Homo sapiens: one gene and its partners. The protein of the gene in region 1 purifies or fractionates together with the protein of each later gene. This does not show direct contact. Each region holds a gene or a part of one and is shown on either strand. Other genes may lie near its edges. The genes, in order: CA5A, PMPCA, SIRT3 and PITRM1.

Region 1 (4,142 bases):
TTTTCTCTCAAGGCCAAACCACCAGTGATTTTTCAATAATTTTTAGTAACAATATTCTTTTTCCAAGTGAAATAATCTTCAGAATGCCCATAAATAAAACACCGACATAGAAGGATGAATTCCTTATGATGTTCCAATCTTCTCTGCTTGGCAGAATATTCTGCTCTTTGTGGAACTCTGAAATGATTTGGCAGAGCCCTCTGTTCACTGGGAACAGGTTGAGGACCATGGTGTAAATGGATTTAGGTGCCGATACAGAATATGACTCTCTCTAGCACACGATGTAAGAGGACATGTTGCCACAGTAAGAAATGGAATGCTACCTGCTGCCCACTGACAGGGAAATGCTTAAATAGACACAGGGCACCCACCGCTGCCTGTGTTAGCAACAGCAGCAGCTGGCGTCTAGCAAGGGCTTCCTGGAGCCATGTGCTGTCCCCAGCCTTTGCAGGCCCCACCTCGGACCCTTCTCCCAACGACACTGTGCCGTAAGCACCATTATCAACCCCCTGTTACAGACGACAAAACCAAGGCTGGGGGAAGTTAAGAAAGTCACAGAGGGGACAGCTGGGCGTGGTGGCTCACGCCTGCAATCCCAGCACTTTGGGAGGCTGAGGCGGGCAGATCACCTGAGGCTGGGAGTTCAAGACCACCCTGAGCAACATGGAGAATCCCTGTATCTACTAAAAATACAAAATTAGCCGGATGTGGTGGCGCATGCCTGTAATTCCAGCTACTCGGGAGGCTGAGGCAGGAGAATTGCTTGAACCTGGGAGGTGGGGGTTGCGGTGAGCTGGAGATCGCACCACTGCGCTCCAGCCTGGGCAACAAGACAGAAATTAGTCTCAAAAAATAAAGGAAAGTCACAGAGGGGCAACAGCCATAGAGCAGTGGGGCCAAGATTCCAATCTAGGCAGGCTAGCGCTCTTGACGGTCGTACTAAGAATAAAAAAGGGGGGTGGGTGCAGTGGCTCACGCCTGTAATCCCAGCACTTTAGGAGGCCGAGGCAGGTAGACCACCTGAGGTCGGGAGTTTGAGACCAGCCTGGCCAACATGGCGAAATCCTATCTCTACTAAAAATACAGAAATTAGTTGGGCGTGGTGGCACACGCCTGTAGTCCCAGCTACTTGGGAGGCTGAGTCAAGAGGATCGCTTGAACCCAGGAGGCAGAGGCTGCAGTGAGCCGAGATCGCACCACTGCACTCCAGTCCACAGGTGTGGACCCCAACAGGAGGAATGAGTGTAGCTCACTCAGAGTCTGGGGTGGGCCAGGCTTTCTACACGCATCGTGTCATCCTTCCATGGCCCTGGAGAGAAAGTCTGGCCACCCCCATCTCGAGATAAGGACACAGAGGCTTGGGGGTGAAGACCTGCCGAGGCTCCACCTCAGCAAGCGTCAGTCGGACTGCATGCCTGGGGTCTGGCTCCTAAGCCCATGCTCTTTCAATGGCCCAAACATGGAATGCATGGAAGATTTCAGTTAGAAGAGAACTTGGCAGCTGCCAAAGCAGGCTCTCATTCTACGGAGGAAGCACCTGAGACCCAGAAAGAGGAAGGGCCTCGTTCAAGGTCACAAGGCACTGACCATGAAGCCAGGAGGGGCTGGCACGGGGCAGTTTCTTGGCAGAGCTGGCTGAGTGGTTTATTTGTTACAGGTTTGCTTGAAAGCGTTCTCTGCCGAAGAGTTTAGGAGCGATCGTGACTGGTTAGTGCAGCCCATTCCGCCGGGTCTGGATGGTGAGTCGTGCCAGTGTGTCCCGTGCGAACACGGACTACCCGCCTGCTCCCAGCATCTTGCCCTCCCCAGGACCCCTGAAACGGAGGCTAAATGATTCACCCAAGGTCACCAAATACAAGAGAAACGGAGTGTGGCCAGGCGCGGTGGCTCACGCCTGTAATCCTAGCACTTTGGGAGGCCAAGGTGGGTGGATCACCTGAGGTCAGGAGTTCGAGACCAGCCTGGCCAACATGGTGAAACCCCATCTCTACCAAAATACAAAAAATTAGCTGGGTGCAGTGGCGGGTGCCTGTAGTCCCAGTTACTTTGGAGGCTGAGGCAGGAGAATCACTTGAACCTGGAGGGCAGAGGTTGCAGTGAGCCGAGATCATGCCATTGCACTCTAGCCTGGGCAAAAGAGCAAAACTTCATCAAAAAAAGAAAAAAGAGGGCCGGGCGCCGTGGCTGATGCCTGCAATCCCAGCACTTTGGGAGGCTGAGACAGGCGGATCGCGAGGTTAGGAGTTCGAGACCAACCTGGCTAACACAGTGAAACCCTGTCTCTACTAAAAATACGAAAAATTAGCCAGGAGTGGTGGCATGCACCTATAGTCCCAGCTACTCAGGAAGCTGAGGCAGGAGAATCGCTTGAACCCGGGAAGTGGAGGTTGTGGTGAGCTGAGATCACGCCACTGTACTCCAGCCTGGGCCACAGAGCGAGACGCCATCTTAAAAAAAAAAAAAAAAAAACGGAGTGGAAATCTGAACCCATCTGGCTCGGGACGGTCTCTCCTCTCTCCTCTCGAAAGACCCCATCAGCTAAGACAAGGATCCAGTCGCATCTTAGGAAATTTGAGGCTCTACTTACAAGTGTTATTGCTGGTTTGCCATGCACAGGAACGCTGAGAACACCATCGCCCTGGCCTCATCGAACGACTCCAGAGAGGGGCCCACATCTGCTCAACCAAGAAGGAGAAAGCTGAGGTCTTCCAAGTGTTCCTCCCCAACATCTTGGGTCTGTTCCCACTGACTCCAGTCTGAAGAGGGTGATGTTCCCTGCTGTCTGTTCTCACTTTGATCAGGACCACTGTGGACTGGCGTGTACCCACCTCTTTTTGTAGAAACTCATCCCAACCCCTGAGCCTAATGGTTAAAGTTCAACCCATGCCTTTCCCAACAGGGTGGGTCCACAGGGATTAGTGGCCTCTGCTGGGGACAGGCCACTCAGGTCACTGGGCTTTGATCTGGCAAACAGGAGCACAAGTCTGCCAGGGAGCTAGAAAAACTGTACGGTGGGGCTGCGTGAGCACCAGGGGATTACGCGGGAGGCGGGGGCGAGTGGATGAGAGCAGAGTCCCTGTTTCTTTCATGGGGTTGACCGTGTGGTTTGGGGCTCCGGGACACTCAATACCAGGCACAAAGCCATGGTGTGCATGTGAGGAGGGACTGGCAGGCAGGCTCAGAAGTACAGGAATGGGACTGGCCAAAGCGCTGCTGGGTAGACAGGCCAGGGGAGCAGGGAGCTTCTGTCCACCCACCAGGGCTCCTGAAGTCATGGAGTCCTTGCTTGCCTTAAAATAGGTGCGATTTGATTCATTCATCCTCCCCGGAAGCAAGATGCCCTGTGGCTTCGGACACTTCCAGGTCATGCCTGCTGTCTTGGCATAAACATTAACAGGGCCACCTTTCTTTCTTTCCTTTTCTTTTTTTTTTTAGACAGAGTTTCACTTCTGTTGCCCAGGCTAGAGTGCAATGGCGTGATCTCGGCTCACTGCTACCTCTGCCTCCCAGGTTCAAGCAATTCTCCTGCCTCAGCCTCCTGAGTAGCTGGGATTACAGGCGCCCACCACCATGCCCAGCTAATTTTTTGTATTTTTAGTAGAGATGGGGTTTCACCACGTTGGCCAGGCTGGTGTTGAACTCCTGACCTCAGGTGATCTGCCTGCCTCGGCCTCCCAAAGTGCTGGGATTACAAGTGTGAGCCACTACGCCCAGCCTCTTTTCTTCGTTTCTTTTCTTTTCTTTCTTTCTTTTTTTGAGATGGAGTCTCGCTCTGTTGCCCAGGCTGGAGTGCAATGGCGTGATCCTGCCTCACTGCAACCTTTGCCTCCCAGGTTTAAGCAATTCTCCTGTCTCAGCCTCCTGAGTAGCTGGGATTATAGGCACACACCACCACAACGGCCAATTTTTTGTATTTTTAGTAGAGACGGGGTTTCACTGTGTTCCCCAAGCTGGTCTCGAACTCCTGAGCTCAGGCAATCCACCCACCTCGGCCTCCTAAAGTGCTAGGATTACAGGCATGAGCCACTGCGTCCAGCCTCTTTTCTTTTCTTTCTTTCTTTCTTTCTTTCTTTCTTTCTTTTTTTTTTTTTTTTTGAGGTGAGGTCTTGCTCTGTCACCCAAGGTGGAGTGCGGTGGTGCCA
Region 2 (3,565 bases), on another chromosome or scaffold:
GTGGAGGACTGTTTTTCTAGCAGTGCACTAGTGGAACTGAAGCGTATTAATTTAACCACAACTTTATTTCTTGAATGCTTTTTTTCCTGGCCGGGCACGGTGGCTCACACCGGGATCCCAAAGTAATCCCAGCACTTTGGGAGGCCAAGGCAGGTGGATCACCTGAGGTCAGCAGTTCAAGACCGGTCTGGCCAACGTGGTGAAACCCTGTCTCTACTAAAAATACAAAAATTAGCCATGGGGCTGCGTGCAATGGCTCACACCTGTAATCCCAGCACTTTGGGAGGCCGAGATGGGCAGATGACTTGAGGTCAGGAGTTCAAGACCAGCCTGGCCAACATGGTGAAACCCCATCTCTACTAAAAATACAAAAAATTAGCCAGGTGTGGTGGTGGGTGCCTGTAATCCCAGCTACTCAGGAGGCTGAGGTAGGAGAATCACCTGAACCCGGGAGGCGGAGGTTGCAATGAGTTGAGATCATGCCACCGCACTCCAGCCTGGGCAACAGAGCAGGACTCCGTCTCAAAAAAAAAAAAAAAAAACAGAAAACAAAAAACAAAAAAATTAGCTAGGGTGGTGACACATGCCTGTAATCCCAGCTACTCAGGAGGCTAAGGTAGGAGAATCACCTGAACCCGGGAGGTGGAAGGATGCAGTGAGCTGAGATCATGCCACTGCACTCCAGCCTGAGCAAGACTCTGTCTAAAAAAAAAAAAAAGTGTGTGTATAAAACTTGCTTATTTGTACCACTTCTGGTCCAGGAAGTAACGAGGTTCCCAAATGTGTAAAGCATCAAAAACTAAGCTTAAAAAATTAGTAAACAGGGACGCATGGTGGCTCACACCTGTAATTGTAATCCCAGCACCTTGGGAGGCCAAGGCAACGGATCACTTGAGGTCAGGAGTTTAAGACCACCCTGGCCAACATGGCGAAACCCCGTCTCTACTAAAAATACAAAAATTAGCCAGGCATGGTGGCGCATGCCTGTAATCCCAGCTACTTGGGAGGCTGAAGCAGGAGAATCGCTTGAACCCGGGAGGTGGAGGTTGCAGTGAGCCGAATTTGAGCTACTGCACTCCAGCCTGGGTGAGACAGTGAGACTCCATCTTAAAAAGAACAAAAAAAAATTGGTAAACAAATACAGTTTCAAACATAGAATGGAGCCAGGGAAAGGCTCGAGACACCCCACGCTGCAGCCCACCTGTGCGAGCTGCTTCACCCCAGTCACCTCACAGAGGCGGCTGAGAAGGACACAAAAACTCCTGCAGCGTTTCGCCAGCAAAGCTGAGAGAGTCACATGGTCAGTCCCACGACTCACCCAGTGGCTCAGAGAAAGAAGTAGTGGACCGAGCACTGGGGGAGGGCGGTGGTCTGTTTTTCTGTTTTCGGGGTTTGGACCAGGGAAGAACAGCCTCAGCGGGCTCCCAGGTGGAGCAGCTCAGCCCCAGGCTGTGCCTCCTTGGCCGCCCTGCCCTGCCCTGCCCTGCCGGGACCTTGGCCCTGAGGCTCAGGGACCAGGCCCACAGGTGGCCACTCCTACAACGTGGCTGTCTCCTGTCAGACACCACAGGTACGCCTGGAAATGGCGCCACACTGCACTTACCGTGTCCACGGTTCCGCCCATTAAAATAAACTCCTTTGTGATGATTTCTACCATTTCTCGAACCTGCGAAGAAGGGCAAGACGATAACAGTGTGGCCTGCGCCTGCCGGCCTACTGACCCGTCTAGGCAGGGACGCCCAGGTCTGGACAGGCAACCGCACTGAGGACGGTGGCAGGCGGGGCCCTCACCTGTCTTGGGTCGGCGCTGGCATGGATGCAAAGGAGGCCAGTGTCCTCGTAGCTGTGGTGGTAGGAGGTCGCGTTATACATCCAGTGGTGCCTGGGAGGAAGCGAGAGTCATGGGAGTGAAGGGGACTCGCCAGGATCAGGCCATGGGAAACTGGAGAAAAGTCACCTGGAAGGTGGCCTCATGGTCCAAAAACACACCTGGCCTGGCCTGGTGGCCTGAGGATACAGAAAAGAGTGCAACCCACCTGTTGAGCACGTTGAGGTAGAGCCTGGAGAACATGCCCTTGCCGGGCCCACCAGCCGAGAAGGAGCCACCTCCGCCCATCATCATGTTCAACACTGCAAAGGGGATGAAGTCCTCCTCCTGCAGGGACGGAGGGCAGAGCTGGCTGAACCACCCACGCCACGTCAGGAGCACCGTCAGACGCCAGGGACGGAGGGCAGAGCTGGCTGAGTCGCCCAAGCCACGTCAGGAGCGCCGCTGGACGCCAGGGACGGAGGGCAGAGCTGGCTGAGCCACCCATGCCGCGTCAGGAGCGCCGTCGGATGCCAGGGACAAAGGGCAGAGCTAGCTGAGCCACCCACGCTGTGTCACGAGCGCCGTCAGACGCCAGGGACAGAGGGCAGAGCTGGCTGAGTCGCCCACACTGCATCAGGAGCATTGCTGGATGCCAGGGACAGAGGGCAGAGCTGGCTGAGCCGCCCACGCCCCATCAGGAGCGCTGTCGGATGCCAGGGACAGAGGGCAGGGCTGGCTGAGCCGGCCACACTGCATCAGGAACGCCATCAGACCCAGCACCAGGACTCACCAGGAAGGAGCAGCTCTCCAGTCCAACCATGATGTGCGTGAGCTCGGGGATGGGGGTCGGGCCCAGGCTGACATTGGACATGTCTCTTTCTAGCTGTAACCAAGAAAACAAGCAAGTGTCGCCATGTGAAAAACAATGAGGGCTCGCAAACCCCAGATGAGATCATCTTCAGAGTGGTTACACAGAAATCCAATGCCAGCCAGGCACAGTGGCTCATGCCTAAAATCCCAGCACTTTGGGAGGCCAAGGTGGGCAGATCACTTGAGTCCAGGAGTTCAAGACCAGCCTAGGCAATGTGGCAAAACTCCACCTCTACCAAAAAGACAAAAAAAAAAAAACATATGTATATACATATAAGCTGGGCGTGGTGGCTTACGCCTGTAATCCCAGCATTTTGGGAGGCTGAGGCAGGTAGATCATGAGGTCAGGAGTTCGAGACCAGCCTGGCCAACATAGTGAAACCCCATCTCTATACAAAATTTAGCCGGGCGTGGTGGTAATCCCAGCTACTCGGGAAGTTGAGGCAGAAGAATCACTTGAACCTGGGAGGTGGAGGTTGCAGTAAGCCGAGATTGCACCACTGCACTCCAGCCTGGGTGACAGAGCGAGGCTCCATCTCTAAAAAAAAAAAAAAAAAATGCAACACGCAGTGGCAGACCCACTCCCCTAGAGAAAGAACCGCATCCACCTTTTGTGTTGCTCTCAGGCCTAGCAGCACTCATTCTCAGCAGGGGACACAGTCCATGCCCTGCTGTGGGACTACAGCATGTGTTAAGGCAAAGCTACACATGCAGTCAACACCTATCACCCTCAGAATCAATACAAAAACAGGTCACACCACGGGCCAGGGGACGTGTTCCCCACCCGAGGCCATGAGACGTTCCCGCTACTTCACCTTGGCAATCCCCCCAGTGTACTGGGCCACAGATCTGTCAATATCCACGGCCTCTGCGCTCCCCCAGGCC
Region 3 (3,565 bases), on another chromosome or scaffold:
TGGTCATGGTGGGGGCCGGCATCAGCACACCCAGTGGCATTCCAGACTTCAGGTACTGCCCACAGTCCCACCTGCCTTCTGCGCTCCCCTCCCCTGACTCCTGCCCTCCCCACTGCCCAGTTTATTCCACTTCCCTGTCCTCTTCCAAAGGCCTCAGAGCCTTTCTTCTCTCCCTGCAGATCGCCGGGGAGTGGCCTGTACAGCAACCTCCAGCAGTACGATCTCCCGTACCCCGAGGCCATTTTTGAACTCCCATTCTTCTTTCACAACCCCAAGCCCTTTTTCACTTTGGCCAAGGAGCTGTACCCTGGAAACTACAAGCCCAACGTCACTCACTACTTTCTCCGGCTGCTTCATGACAAGGGGCTGCTTCTGCGGCTCTACACGCAGAACATCGATGGGCTTGAGAGAGGTGAGCCCTCTGTGAGTCGCACACATTCTTTTTCTCCCACGGAGGCTCGGGTGCCTGTTTCTCCCAGGGAGGCTCGGGTGCCTGTTTCTCACAGGGGATGCTCGGGTGCCTGTTTCTGGGGACGGCCAAAACCTATCGCTTATGCTTCTTCCTTGGGACTTTTTTTGAGCCAACTAGTTAGGGCTTTGTTCCCAAGGAAAATGTCCTCTGGGTGTTTAAAGGCCACTGCTTGTTCTCCTGCATACCTGCAGAGCTGTGTATTTTGGGCAGAAGTTGACATTGTTTTGCCAATCTGGTGTGATGATCTCTTTTTTTCTTCTCTCTTTTAAGAAGTGTATTATGGAATTTTTTTGAGCACACACAAAGAGAGCAATGTAACGAACCGTCCTGTCCTCATCACCAGCACACAGCCAGTTCTTCCTGCGTCCTCACCACCTTCTTCCAAATCCCCAGATTATTTTGAAGCAAATCTCTCACATCATGAATTTAATCTAGAAATAATCTATAAACACATGAATGGATAGCTCTAGAGAATACTTTAAAAACAACTCCGGCCGGGTGCCGGATTACAGGTGTGGGATCACACCTGTAATCCCAGCATTTTGGGAGGCCGAGGCAGGTAGATCACCTGAGGTCGGGAGTTCGAGACCAGCCTGGCCAACGTGGCAAAACCCCGTCTCTACTAAAAATACAAAAAATTAGCCAGGCGTGGTGGTGTGTGCCTGTAATCCCAGGTACTCGGGAGGCTGAGACAGGAGAATCTCTTGAACCCAGCAGGCGGAGGTTGCAGTGAGCCGAGATCGTGCCACTTCACTCCAGCCTGGGCGACAGAGGGAGATTCTGTCTCAAAAAAATAAATAAAAATAAAAATAATTAAAAAATAAAAACAACTCTGATAGTGATTCACACTGAAGAATCACTAGTAATTCCTTAATATGGTCACACTTAGTCTGTGGTGATTTCTTGACCGTATCCATATGGTGCCCAAACCAGCGATTCACAGGTTGTGCCAACTTCTGGCCGTGCACCTAACGGAAGCACTTGGTGGGGCCTTTTCCTTACGTGCAGTGATGCAGACAGGTGCTGGGACAGTCAGCTCTCCGGGAGCCAGGCTCCCGGAGAGACTGCTGATGTGTTGTCAGTTAAAAAGAGGTGGCACCTTGGCTCCAGGAATGTGTTTCCTTGCCAGAAGGATCCCCTGACTTGGAACCACAGAGGCAGCAGCGGATGCCCCATGTTGGTGGGCTCTTCTCCCAGAGGTGCAGCAGGGCAGGCCTTGTGGGAAGGTGGGAGCTCCTGGCTGTGAGATTCAGCACTGCTGAGTTAGGGCAGCGACAGGGACTTGGGAAGCCTCCTGCAGCTGGGACCCTGGCTGTGCCACCGCAGCCTTTCAGAACCAGTTAATACTAACACAACTTTCATAAGAAGTCACTTTTTGTCTGTTTCTACCAAGCAATTCTTTTGGAATTTATGATATTTATATCCTCATTTTAACTTGGTATCTGTAGAATAGAAGATATGTTCCTGGATATTAGATATAAATTTTTGAGACAGGGTCTTGGCTCTGTTGCCCAGGCTAGAGTGCAGTGGCATGATCATAGCTCACTATAGCCTGAACTCTTGGGCCGAAGTGATCCTTTTGCCTCAGCCTCTGGAATAGCTGGGACTACGGGCATGCACTACCATGCCTGGCTAATTAAAAAAATTTTTTAAGACAAGTCTCACTATGTTGCTGAGGCTGGTCTCAAACTCCTGGCCTCAAGTGATCCTCCTGCCTTGGCCTTCCAAAGCACTGGGATTACAGGCATGAGCCACTGCACCCAGCCTGGTATTAGGTGTAATTTTTTTTTTTTTTTTTGAGACAGAATCTCGCTCTCTTACCCAAACTGGAGTGCGGTGGCACGACCTCAGCTCACTGCAACTTCCACCTCCCGGGTTCAAGCGATTCTCCTGTCTCAGCCTCCCCGAGTAGCTGGCACTACAGGTGCCTGCCACCACATCTGGCTAATTTTTGTATTTTTAGTAGAGGTACGGTTTCACCATGATGGCCAGGCCGGTCTTGAACTCCTAGCCTCAAATGATCTGCCCACCTCGGCCTCCCAAAGTGCTGGGATTACAGGTGTGGGCCACTGTGCCCGGCTGGATATAATTTTATTTGAGCTTTTATCAAATGGTTTTTCGTACTGAGTTTTGACAGGCTTTGTTTTAACCGTGATTTGGCTCCAGCTAGGTGCCCCTTTGCTCCCCTGCCTTATTCTGGTTGATGGCGCATGTAGGTGATACGGGCATGAAAACCAGGCTTGAGGACATCACAACCCCAAGGGGCTGTGCCTCCTTCCAGGAGTCCTGCCAAGCCCAGAAGTTGTGCTCTTGGCCTTGCGTGCTCATCTCGGAGGCGGCAGCAACACTTCGCTTTGGCTTGAATTTCAGTGTCGGGCATCCCTGCCTCAAAGCTGGTTGAAGCTCATGGAACCTTTGCCTCTGCCACCTGCACAGTCTGCCAAAGACCCTTCCCAGGGGAGGACATTCGGGTGAGTTATCCTGCTGTTGGTTGTCCTTCTGCAGTTTGCTGTTGGGGTGATCTGGAAAAGTGGTATTTTATAAGCATTGTCTCGAAAGGACAGTTGAACAATAATAGTGTGAAACATTTTATTTGTAAATTAGAAAATCAATACATGCTTGTAAAAAAATTTAAGACAATATAGAAATATGTAGGGAAAATGAATCTCCCTTCAGCCAATTCCAGCTGCCCACTTTTTTTTTTTTTTTTTGAGATTGAGTCTCACTCTGTCGCCCAGGCTGGAGTGCAGTGGGCGATCTCGGCTCACTGCAACCTCCGTCTCCCGGATTCAAGGAATTCTTCTGCCTCAGCCTCCTAAGTAGCTGGGATTACAGGCGTGAGCCACCACGCCCGGCAATCAGATGGCCTTTTGTGCCGAGCTTATTTCCTGAAAATGTTTCTCGCTCCTTCGCCTTGTAGCTTGTGTTAGTATTTCATCCTGTTTCATGGCTAAATGTTCCACTGATGTATGCACCACAGTTGGTTTGTTTGTACATGGATGGGTGTTTGGGTTGTCCCACCTTTCTGCTCTTGTGTATAGTTCTGCTGTGGAGCATATGCAAGTATTCGTTTGAGAGTCCTTGTTTTTTATT
Region 4 (3,565 bases), on another chromosome or scaffold:
CAGCCAGGCCACCTGGAAAGTGAGTGCGCCAGAAAGAAACTGGGCCTGCACACTCCTCTGCCGTCCCCTAGAGGGTGCCCAGGAGAAACCCGGGCCGACCAGGTGTGACCTGTGGGACCCCGTGCAACAAACACTTTGGGGCCAACTAGAAAATCTGAATATGGAATAAGAAATAGGCAGTTTTAAGAAAGTATGTTTTATTCTATTAAAACTGAAAATGGCATTAGCTCATGTAAGAAAAAATCCTCACGTTTTAGGGTCACAAATTCAAACATTTACGGGCAAATGATCATGACGTCTATAATTTACTTCCAAAAACTTCAGCAAGGGAAAGGATATCTATTACATGATAAGTGTTTAGGGGCTCATTATTCTAGTATCTCTACTTTTCTGTATGCTTCAAGTTTTCATAATTATTTTTACATAAAATAATCTTGCAAATATGTTTTTACATTAGCATTCATATGTAAATACAATTAGTGTTTTATATAAGATATATGACTATATTATTATTATAATGACCTTGTATTAGTGACATAAGAACAAGCAATGTATCAGAAAGTGAGGATGTAATTAAGGTTCAGTAACTGCATCCACTATTGGAAGAGCACTTCTCCGTGCCAAGGAGAGGGCTTCAAGCTTCACACCCCGTGTCAAGGTGGGCACCATCCATGCACCCCCACTTTCCACGCAACCAAGCTAGATGTGAGGCAACAGGCTGCGGGGCCAGGACCCTCCTCTGGGGGACTCTAAACGCTGTGTTTGTAACCACCATGCTGAGCCTCCTGAGGGCTATCATTGTAAATGTCCAAAATCAATGTCCAAGTAAGATAGGCAAACTTAGGCCAAGAATCTTACCTAGACTTAGATATTTCTTAAGCATTGCTAAATGTGAGAGAAGCCATGCCATAAACTGTTAAGAACACAAACAAGTCAACTTTTCACAATCCACCATCAAACTTTTCCAACAAAATATTACCTAGCATTGCTTGGGTGATAGTGAGTGGCATGAAACTGCTTAAGCTGCTCCCATGTAAGCTCCGGGATGCACAGTGGGTCACCCCCGGAGACCACTGAGTACGTGTGGTCAGGAAGAAGTCTGTTCTGAAGGTGCTGGGAGAATATCCTCTCATTGTCTGTCTTGAAACGTAAAATAAATAAATCATAAGTATACATGTAAAATAATACACACGTTACATTACTTACAATATAGCCAATTGATCACATTCTGGTGCATACACCTGTAATACTTTGCAAATAAAGCTGTTCTAATGGTTTAAAAAAAAAAAAAAAACACCCACGCAGGCATTGTTTAACACGGTATTCAATCATTCATCACCCACGCACAGGACCCAAGGATTGAGAAGAACAATGGATTTTTTGATGTGTGGTGCAACAAACGCATAGCTGAGGGCTGTAAATCGGGATGGATCAGTCGGTCTGCCCACCAGCCGTGAGGGAAGTGGGGAGAAGCTGTCACCCCAACTTGAGTTCAAGAAGACTCCTTGGAAGAAAAGACCACCAAATTGAGAATGAAAAGGTAAGAAATAGTTCACCAGCCGAGAGGAGCTACGGGAATCAGAGAGCAGGCCACCCATGAGCCTCAGGGACACCAGGACAGACAGGTTGTCCAAGTCACAAAGGGACATGAAGACATGGGCCCAGGACAGCAGCTCTTAATCCAAAATGGTCTCAAGAATCCTTTACACTCTGAAAAATTAACCCATTTATGCCTGAGGTTGCAATTTTTTTGTAAAAAATCAGACCTTGGCGATGACCTTGAGCTGTAGGACATAAATAACTCCCACAAGCTTAGGGTGCCAATAATGGAACACTAGGCATAAATGCGTTTTAATGAGGACCCAAACAGCTTTTGATTATGTGGGCGTTTTTGCCTGTGTAGGTGCCTGTGTGTGTTTATATAATTTTTCTATATTCTAAATTAAAGCTGAGACATTTAAAAAATACTTATTCATTAAGGTAAGCCATCATTACATGTTGATATAAATATTTTTGAAAAATACTTCTCATAACAAAGTAAAAAACTGATTAGAGTGGTGCTGTGTTGCCTTTTTTGCAAATCTCTGTAGCGTCTGGCTCAGAGGTGAAGCTGGACTCCCCCATTTGCTCTGTATGCAGCTCGCTGTGTGTCACACACCTTGCCATGCAGCCTCTAGAAAGTACACCGTGTACTTGGGCAAGAATGAATGAAAAGACACTGTCTTGGTAGTGGTATGAAAATAGCTTTTATCTCACAGACTTGCTGCAGATCACATACCAGGGGTCCCCAGACATGGTCTGAGACCTGCTGGGAAGAACAGCAGCCTGGCCCTGCTACCCCGACTTCTGCTCACAGCACTGACCCCAGCTAATTCAAGAATGTATCACCTATAATGAGAATATTAAATAAAATCTTCCAGATGTGTCTATATCATGATATTGTACATGGGAAAGGTAAGCTGAACACAACATAAAAAAGGAAGAAAACTTACAAACGCTCCCTTCATCTCATTAAAGACGACTCCTTTAAAGACCAAGGGCGTCTGGGGGTCGCTCGGATTCTCATGTTCCAGCCGCCATCCTTCCTGCCTGAGGACAAATCATTATAAGCTGATAGTGACTCAAATACTAAAGTCTGTATCAACTAGTTAATCATTCATGACATACCAGAAATCCAGCTCGCGTAAACATGGGAAAAAGGTGGCATCCAAATACACCGAGAGGAGATTCTGAAAGTCCTTGGGATTTTGTGTGGAAAATGGATACAGAGTATAATCACTAGCTGGGTACAAATGAAAAGTGAAATTGTAAAATATAACAGATTTCTACTAAAATTATTGACTCTCAAGACTCATTCCCCCTTTGTCCTAGGACAGTAAGCTGTAGCTATTCTTGGGATGGGGCAGTGGCCCCATGCTCTGGTCCCTGGCCTCAGCAGCTGTCCCAGCTCATAACCCCAAGTGCCGGCTTTCCCATCCCGTCTCAGGATCTGCACTCGACGGGCACCAGGGCTTTCTTCAGCGAATATCTAAACTCTCTCAAGTTTCTCCAGAGACTTTCATACATCTACAAAGATGACCTCATTCTGTAACAGCATGGATTTAACCCGCTCTTCAATGTCACTCCCCCACAGAATGCACTGTTCATCGTCACCCTATCCACTATCGTCAGTCTTACTAAAAGTCAAACATCAACATTAGTAGTAACTCTGGCATTGTAGCGATATCTCCAAGAGAAAATTGTTTTGAACTTTTCTGGGAAAAGTTCACATATGTTTTCTTAAAACGCTAGTTTTTACAATCTCGCTACCATGTGGCTTTCCTGAAGGATTAAATTTCTAATGTCCTTCAACTAGAGAGAGGTAAAAATTTTTCTAGAACATGAATTGCCCACTCCCCTCATTCCTTCTCAGAAACTAACTGAATTCCAGTGGGTGTGCCTGGCAAACCCAAAAGCAGTTTCTGTTCAGGATGCTGGTCTTACCTGTGAAGGCGTTCATGAACGTGGAGAGGGACCGGTTCAACATTTTGAAGAAAGGGTCTCTGCACGGATATTTCTGAGACCC

Evidence for each region.
Region 2: the proteins of CA5A (region 1) and PMPCA purify together in Homo sapiens (affinity purification with mass spectrometry; one large-scale study listed by BioGRID and IntAct). This does not show direct contact.
Region 3: the proteins of CA5A (region 1) and SIRT3 purify together in Homo sapiens (affinity purification with mass spectrometry; one large-scale study listed by BioGRID and IntAct). This does not show direct contact.
Region 4: the proteins of CA5A (region 1) and PITRM1 purify together in Homo sapiens (affinity purification with mass spectrometry; one large-scale study listed by BioGRID and IntAct). This does not show direct contact.

Annotation. Positions count from the first base shown.
Region 1 is NC_000016.10:87,933,722-87,937,863, forward strand, and holds the start of CA5A (carbonic anhydrase 5A, mitochondrial isoform 1 precursor), read right to left. Parts: upstream 2,809-4,142; 5' UTR 2,730-2,808; coding exon 2,588-2,729; intron 1-2,587. UniProt on the Homo sapiens protein: Mitochondrial carbonic anhydrase that catalyzes the reversible conversion of carbon dioxide to bicarbonate/HCO3.
Region 2 is NC_000009.12:136,417,145-136,420,709, reverse strand, and holds part of PMPCA (mitochondrial-processing peptidase subunit alpha isoform 1 precursor), read right to left. Parts: coding exon 3,496-3,565; intron 2,694-3,495; coding exon 2,601-2,693; intron 2,156-2,600; coding exon 2,037-2,155; intron 1,883-2,036; coding exon 1,792-1,882; intron 1,667-1,791; coding exon 1,604-1,666; intron 1-1,603. UniProt on the Homo sapiens protein: Substrate recognition and binding subunit of the essential mitochondrial processing protease (MPP), which cleaves the mitochondrial sequence off newly imported precursors proteins.
Region 3 is NC_000011.10:229,830-233,394, reverse strand, and holds part of SIRT3 (NAD-dependent protein deacetylase sirtuin-3, mitochondrial), read left to right. Parts: coding exon 1-52; intron 53-179; coding exon 180-412; intron 413-2,688; exon of another isoform or gene 2,689-2,842; coding exon 2,843-2,943; intron 2,944-3,565.
Region 4 is NC_000010.11:3,162,746-3,166,310, forward strand, and holds part of PITRM1 (presequence protease, mitochondrial isoform 2 precursor), read right to left. Parts: coding exon 3,484-3,565; intron 2,783-3,483; coding exon 2,668-2,782; intron 2,590-2,667; coding exon 2,493-2,589; intron 1,141-2,492; coding exon 980-1,140; intron 1-979. UniProt on the Homo sapiens protein: Metalloendopeptidase of the mitochondrial matrix that functions in peptide cleavage and degradation rather than in protein processing. Has an ATP-independent activity. Specifically cleaves peptides in the range of 5 to 65 residues.